2 linked regions of the Homo sapiens genome follow. The protein of the gene in region 2 interacts with the protein of the main gene of each other region in a biochemical or structural test. Each region holds a gene or a part of one and is shown on either strand. Other genes may lie near its edges. The genes, in order: GNAO1 and CACNA1B.

The links.
Region 1: the proteins of CACNA1B (region 2) and GNAO1 form a complex in vitro, tested with the Homo sapiens proteins (one study listed by BioGRID).

Annotation. Positions count from the first base shown.
Region 1 is NC_000016.10:56,337,989-56,341,488, reverse strand, and holds part of GNAO1 (guanine nucleotide-binding protein G(o) subunit alpha), read right to left. Parts: intron 656-3,500; coding exon of another isoform or gene 502-655; intron 1-501. UniProt on the Homo sapiens protein: Guanine nucleotide-binding proteins (G proteins) function as transducers downstream of G protein-coupled receptors (GPCRs) in numerous signaling cascades.
Region 2 is NC_000009.12:138,055,488-138,059,499, reverse strand, and holds part of CACNA1B (voltage-dependent N-type calcium channel subunit alpha-1B), read right to left. Parts: intron 1,769-4,012; coding exon 1,631-1,768; intron 1,452-1,630; coding exon 1,250-1,451; intron 932-1,249; coding exon 767-931; intron 422-766; coding exon 311-421; intron 1-310. UniProt on the Homo sapiens protein: Voltage-sensitive calcium channels (VSCC) mediate the entry of calcium ions into excitable cells and are also involved in a variety of calcium-dependent processes, including muscle contraction, hormone or neurotransmitter release, gene expression, cell motility, cell division and cell death.

The sequences.
Region 1 (3,500 bases), on a different chromosome or scaffold from region 2:
CAGCTCATTCCCTCTTCATAGCACCTGGTGAGGGAGGCGAGGGCAATCACAGCCATCACCCCATCTCACAGACCCAGAGACTGAGGTTCAGAGAGGCTGCATGACCTGCCTGAGCTGCTTGTGAGTGGCGGAGCTGGGGCATAAACCTTGGGCTGCCTAACTCCAAGCCTCTGTGCCCCGCCCCTCATCTTCTCGGCGTTTGCTCGTCTCGTCACAGAGAGCCCCTGTGCGCAGACAGTGGAGCTCAGGCTCCCAGAGGCCGCCATGGTCACACAGCTCGTAAGTGGCAGAGCCAGGGCTCTACCGGCTTTCCCTGATGAGGAAGCCCCGGCTAGCTGCCCCTCCTCTCTAGAGCACAATCTGGGGGCAGGGTGGGGGACCGTTTGTGTGGATTCTCTGTGGCAGAGTCAGGGGCATCCACAGAGCACAGGAAGGGTGGACTGGGCTTTGGGAACGGGGCCCGCTCCCTCGGGGGCCTGCTGTCCCTGGAGGGGTCTCTACCTGTATATTCAGGAAAGCAGATGGTGAGCGGGGACTTCTTGATCTTCTCTTCAAATATGTCCTTCTTGTTAAGAAACAGGATGATGGACGTGTCTGTGAACCATTTGTTGTTGCAGATGCTGTCAAAAAGCTTCAGGGATTCGTGCATGCGGTTCTGCAACAGAGTGGAGGGGTGAGTGAGGGGCGGCAGCATCCAGGGCCCTGACCCACCGCGGCCAATGACACAGCGGGACAAGCAAAGGGAAGGTCCACCAATGTGGCTGGATGCACCACCGGGACGGAGACCACCAGGACGGAGACGGGAGGACCCACAAGGACAGACGGGACGTGGTCCTGTTTCATTCCACACGCAGGCAGGGCGGGGCGGAGCAGGGCCGGGCAGGGTTGGGGGATGCTGCCCCCTTCCAAAGAGAGCTGGCCCCAGGTGGGGGCAGTGAGGTCACTGGAGAGGCTCCAGCTCACGGAGAGGACATGCACCATGCACGTACAGCGCAGGGGCCGCAACCACCACCGAACGCATCTGCGCGGAACCCTGCTCATGCAGATTTCTCTACCAGGGTCTCATTCGGTTTTGACAGCAAGGTTGGAAGGGTGCACGCATTCAGTTGGGAAACATTAACTGAGGACTAAGAGATCCTCGAATTAATCCCGAGTTGGAAGCAGACACCAGGGAATAGCGTCTCGGGGGTGAGCTTGCTGTGGCCTTGGTGTGGTTGGTGGTCTCGTTGGTGGGCTGGAGCGGGGGAGGCTCTGGGAGAACTGGTTGTTGGGGCTGGTTTCTCAGTAGAGGGGCCAGAGGAACCCCAAGATGAAACACAGCAAAACAGATGAAAACAGAGAAGATAAAAACCCAACAAGAGAAAGAGAGAAAAATACTGAAAAATTGGTTCAACCAGTCTCAGGGCCAGGGCATCCTGGCTAGCTCCTGCAGAGAGCCCGGTGCGGGCTCACAGGGGCCATGGCCATCCTGGGCCTGTGGATTGCAGGGCAAGAGATGCAGGATGGGTGGGATGAGCCCAGGCCAAGTGGCTGGAGAGGAGTGTGGGCGCAGGGGCGGGCTGGGCAGGCATCACAGCAAAGTCACCCAGCGGTGCCCTGAGAACCTGCTGCTTTCAACTCTTAGCTGATGGATTCAGTTGGAGGGAGGTGCTTCATACCTTCCGGGCTTGGAGGGTCTCTCAGAACTGGTTTTGGCCTTGGTTTGGCAAGATAAGGCCCTGCAGGCAGTGGAGGCGACCGTGGTAGTGGAGAAGCTGTGGCAGCCGCAGGCCCGGCTGGGCGGTGCTGAGAGCAGGTACGAGGCCAGGACCAGGCTCTCGGGCTCCCGGGATGCAGCGGACAGGGCGGCTGGATGGCCAGTGGCAGCCACTAGCCCCAGGGCTCTCCTGGCCTGGCTCCAGAAGCTGCTTCCAGACACCTTTGTTGCAGGCTCTCACCCCAGGCCAGAGAGGGATGCACAGCGCTGACCAGAGAGGATGGCTGAGGACCAAGGCCTGAGTTCCTGGGGCCTGGCTCTTGCCTCCCTGAGGCAGACAGAGCTCCCACATCCTAGAACCTGACCTCTAGCCATGGCATCTGAATGTTGTAGCCACAGGAGCTATTCACTGAGTGATGATTCCTGTGTACAGGCACTTTTACAGCTTTTAGCCCGGTGGTCCATTCTACCATTGTCACCATCTACAGAGGAGGAGGTGCAGGCCCGGGCAGGGTGGGGCGGTTGCCCATGATCACACAGGCGGCAGGGGTGATGCTAGACCCTGGACCAGATCTGTCTGACTCCCAAGCTGTCCACCTCTGCATGCGCCCCCAGCGCACGGCGATGACTGCTTAGTTCTACAGCGCCAGTATTGTTCTTGCTGCCACCACGGCAATGAGCTGCCTTTGTGGCTGCTGTCAGGTTGCAAAGTCATCCCCATTCCCTGCACGAGCTGCTACTCTTCCCCGGGCTGCAAAGGTGGCCAGCCTTGGGGAAGGAAGGACACAGGAAGAGCCTGCCTGTGACCTTGGCTCCATTTGCTTTGGCTTCTCCAAGGTCCTCTGCTCCAGCCCTTGTGTGGAAGGGTGGGGGAAATGGGGAAAAAGGGAGGTGAGAGAAGGTGGAGAAGACCGGAGGGCAAGTGCTCCAGGCAGCAAGGCCCGCAGGCTGGAAGGTCACCCAGTGCCAGGCCCAGCACCAGGCTCATGCTCACTGGGGACCCATGGGCTGCAGAGCTCAGGGCCTGTGGCTGCTAGGCTCACCCAGACGTCCCTTGCTTCCATCTTCCAGAGGTGAGCGAGAGCCCAGCCCCATGGCCGGTGGGCCTGGGACTTGGGTTGAAGCCATCCACAGGCCTGGCAGGGCAGGTCCAGGGAGAGGCTGGATTCCAGGGGGAAGGGCCCTCCTGGCTTCCTGCTTCTAGCTCCTTTGCTCTCTTTGAAACCGTGGTGGACATGGGGGAAAAAAGATGAGCCAAGTGGAGCTCAGACCCCAGGAGTTGGAGCAGTGGCCGTAATAGCATAGAGTCTAGCAGTGGGGAGTGGGAAATGTCTGGGTAGTCACTGTGAGGGGCACATGGCCAGGAAGCTGACCTGGGCTTTGGGTGGTCAGTGAGTCTGGGTCCAAGCACGGCCCAGGAAGCGCATCCACCCTTGCCCCACTCAGCATCAAGACTGGGCTGGTGACTGACATCACTGCCTGCAGATGCCATTGAGAACAATTACAGCAGAAACCCAAGTCAGGGGTACAGGTGGGCCTGAAATAGGAAGAGTCAGGTGGGTAAGCCTGTACACGGAACGGGTCCAGACTACCCACACCACCAGCCCAAAGCCCCATCACTCTGTGTAAGCCCCTCAGGGCGGCGGCTCCTCCTCCCTATAGCACTGTGCCCCGTAGCCCACACCCCAAAGTTGATCCCATCCTCACAAAGCCCAGTGGACCAGCTGGGCCAGAAATGACGAGGAAACAGACCCAGAGAGAGGACAGGCCTCGCTCAAGGCCCAGCATGACAACAAGCCCCACC
Region 2 (4,012 bases):
CCAGAGGTAAGCAGATGTCAAAGCCAGGGACACAGATACCTCTGGGCCTGGGCAGAGGCAGGACTAAGAGCCATGTGTCCAAAGAGGAAGAACCCAGCCCTGCCTCCCTCCCAGGACCTAGGCTGGGGGCAGAGCTTATGTAGCCAAGAGTCTCAGAACAGCCCCTTCCCCAGGGCCCCTGTAGCATTACATATACTCTGGGTACTCGGAGAATTCCCAGCTCCAAATTGTGAGCCCCCAAAGGTCGCCCTACAGATGGGGAACCAGAATATAGGTTGTCAAAAGGCAAAGCAGGGACCAAAGCACGTACCAGCACCCCAAAGGCGATGATCTTCAGCACGCATTCCATGGAGAACATGGATGTGAACACGATGTTCAGGCATTTCAGCATCAGCTCGTACTCATAGGGTGCATCATAGAACTGCCCGGGGAATAGGCACTGTTGGCCATGGGTTTGGCAGCCCCAAGACACCCCATCTGGGACCACTATGACCAAGCAAAGCGGGCAGACAGAACTCGATGCCTGCCTAGGCCTGGGACACCCCTTCCTGCTCTCCCCGAGTCCTCCCAGAACCTCCCCACTGTCCCAGCCCACAGACAACAAAGGGAAACAGGATTCCACAGGCATCCCATGCTGGCCAGGATGCAAGGCCACTACTGCTTTGGCTCATGCAGGGAGGAAGAAGGCTGACTCTCCACTCAGCCTCAGGGTTAGATCCCAATCCCTAGCAGCGCCAGCTGCCCCTCTGCGCTGAGCCCCACACACCTTCATCATCAGCACCACAGTGTTGAGGGCTATCATGGCCATGATGAAGTATTCAAAGGGCGGGGAGACCACAAATGTCCACGTCTTATACTGGAACGACTGCCGGTTTTGGGGCATGTACCGTGTCAGGGGTTTGGCGCTGATGGCGAAGTCAATGCAAGCCCTCTGTAAGGGGAGAAAGGAGCACAGAGACTCAGAAGCAGAAAACCTACCCGACGGCATCTACTGCACCCAGCCCTGTCTCGCCAGGCCTCACAGGGAGCCCTGACAACAGAAGACAAATTGAAGCAGCCCAGACCTTCTCCAAGCAGGCCTCAACCAGCCAAATCCGGTCCCTCTGCAGGAGAAAGGAGGACCTGCCCCTGTGTTGGCAGACGGTGGCAGCCAAAGCTGACCCAGCTGTGAGTGATTTGTGTGCAGGAGGGAAGCCTGATGGCGCTGCCCACGCTGTCCACTGCAAGACTCCACAGAGCGTCCACCTACCTCGTTCTTCTCCAGGCTGCATTCAGACATCACCTTGTCCCCCTGCTCCTGGAAGGTGATGATGATCAAAGCCACAAAGATGTTGACGAAGAAGAAGGGAAAGACCACAAAGTAGACCACGTAGAAGATGGACAGCTCCATGCGGTACCCAGGGCTTGGACCCTGCTCCTCATAGGTGGCATCCACGGAGTGTTTCAGCACCCTGGGCAAAGAGGAGAGCAAGTGTCAGGGGAACCCCCAAAGGAGACAGCCCTAAGAACTCAAGACCTGCACCACAAGGGTGGGTCTGCTTCCATGCCTGAGCCCAGGGATAGAGGGAGGAAGGGAGGCCGAGCTCAGGGGCTGCCTGCCCCAGCTACGGAGAGCAGGATGAGCACTCACATGGGCCAGCCTTCTCCCGTGGACACTGTGAACAGCGTCAGCAGAGCCCAGAGCACATTGTCGTAGTGAAAGTCGTATTTCTTCCACTGCCTGGGCTGAGCTTCCACTTCCTCCTTCTCATAATCCAAATACTGACCCCTAGGAATGAGAACATGGGAGGTTAGAGGGCAAAGACAAAAGATCCAAATAAACCCACCTATCAAGAGTGTTGAAACCATTCCGTGGGGAAAGAATGGCCTCTCCAACAGACTGTGCTGGGAAAACTGGATGTCCACATGCAGAAGAATGAATGTGACCCTACTTTACTCCATAGACAAAAATTAACTCATGATGGATTCCAGACCTAAGTGTAAGGAGCTAAAACTATAAAACACTTAGAGGAAAACGGGGGCAAAACTTCGTGACCTCGAATCTGGGAATGGAGCCTTAGATGTGACACCAAAATCATGAGCAACAGAATAAAAAATACAGATAAATCAGGCCGCATCAAATCGGACACTTCTGTGCTCAGAGGACGCCGAGAACGTAAAGAGACAAATCCACAGAATGGGAAAAATACTTATTTCCTAATCCTCTGTCTGATAAGGGAGTTGTATTTAGAATATGTAAATAACTATTCTAATAAATAAAAAAGGCCGGGCGCGGTGGCTCACGCCTGTAATCCCAGCACTTTGGGAGGCCGAGGCGGGCGGATCACGAGGTCAGGAGATGGAGACCATCCTGGCTAACATGGTGAACCCCCGTCTCTACTAAAAATACAAAAATAATTAGCCGGGCGTGGTGGCGGGCGCCTATAGTCCCAGCTACTCGGGAGGCTGAGGCAGGAGAATGGCGTGAACCCGGGAGGTGGAGCCTGCAGTGAGCCGAGATCGCGCCACTGCACTCCAGCCTGGGCAACAGAGCGAGACTCCGTCTCAAAAAAAAAAAAAAAAAAAACCCAAATAAAAAATGGGTAAAGGATCTGAATAGACACTCCTCCAAAGAAGATATACAAATGGCTATTAAGCACATGAAACGCTGCTCAACACCACTCATCATCAGGGAAAGGCAAATAAAAACCACCACGAGACACCACTTCATGCCCATGATGATGGCTGTAGTTTAAAAAATACCAAAACTAAAAAGATGGAAAACCACAAGTGTTGGCAAGGATATGGGGAATTCAGAACCCTCATGCATTGCTGGTGGGAATATACAATGCTTTAGCCACTTTGGAAACAGTCTGGCATTTCCTCAAACAGTTAAACACAGAGTTACCCAATCACTCATTAATTCCACTTTTAGGTACACACCCATGAGAAGCAAAAACAGACCCACACAAAAATGTGGACATAAATGTATACAACAGCATCATTTATAACAGCCACAAGGTAGAAACAACCCAATGTTCATCAGCAAATGAAAGAATAAGGAAAATGTGGCACAGCACAGAACACATATTCAGCCGTAACAAGGAACAAGGCTCTGACACAAGCCACTGCGTGGACAAACCTGAAAACATCACACGAAAGAAGCTACTCACAAAAGACCACATATTGTATCATTCAATTTACAAAAAGTGTCCAGAACAGAGAGGTTTACAGAGATTAAAAACAGATTCATAGTTGGCTAGGGGTGGGACAGGGATGTAGGGGATGATAGTTAAACGGTGCGGGTTTTTCTTTTTTTTTGAGGTGCTGAAAATGTGTTCTAAAATTGACTGTGGCGATGCTTGCATGTACCTGTAAATAGACTAAAAGCCACTTAATTGCACACTGTAAGTGGATTGTTATGAACAAGCAGTATAATGTGTTAGTTACATCTCAATAAAGCTGTTTTTTTGTTTCTGTTTTTGTTTTTTTTTTGAGACAGAGTCTTACACTGTCGCCCGGGCTGGAGTGCAGTGGCACAATCTTGGCTCACTGCAACCTCCGCCTTCCAGGTTCAAGCGATTCGCCTGCCTCAGCCTCCTGAGCAGCTGGGATTACAGGTGCTGGCCACCATACCCAGCTAATTTTTTGTAGTTTTAGTAGAGACAGGGTTTCACTATTTTGACCAGGCTGGTCTCCAACTCCTGACCTCATGATCCACCCACCTCAGCCTCCCAAAGTGCTGGGATTACAGGCGTGAGCCACCGCGCCTGGCCTAAAGCTGTTTTGTTTTTGTTTTTTAAAAAATCCATTACACTGGGTAAGAATGATCTTTTCAAATAAACGATGCTGGGTGAATTGGATATCTATCGTCAGAAAACGTATCTTAACCCATACCTTATGTAACACATAAAAATCAACTTCCAAGTAAACTGCAGATCTTAATGTGAAAGGCAAAAATAACACTTTTCAGAAGAAAACACAAGAAAACATCCCTGGCCTTGGGATAGATTTCTTAAACAGGATATAAAGA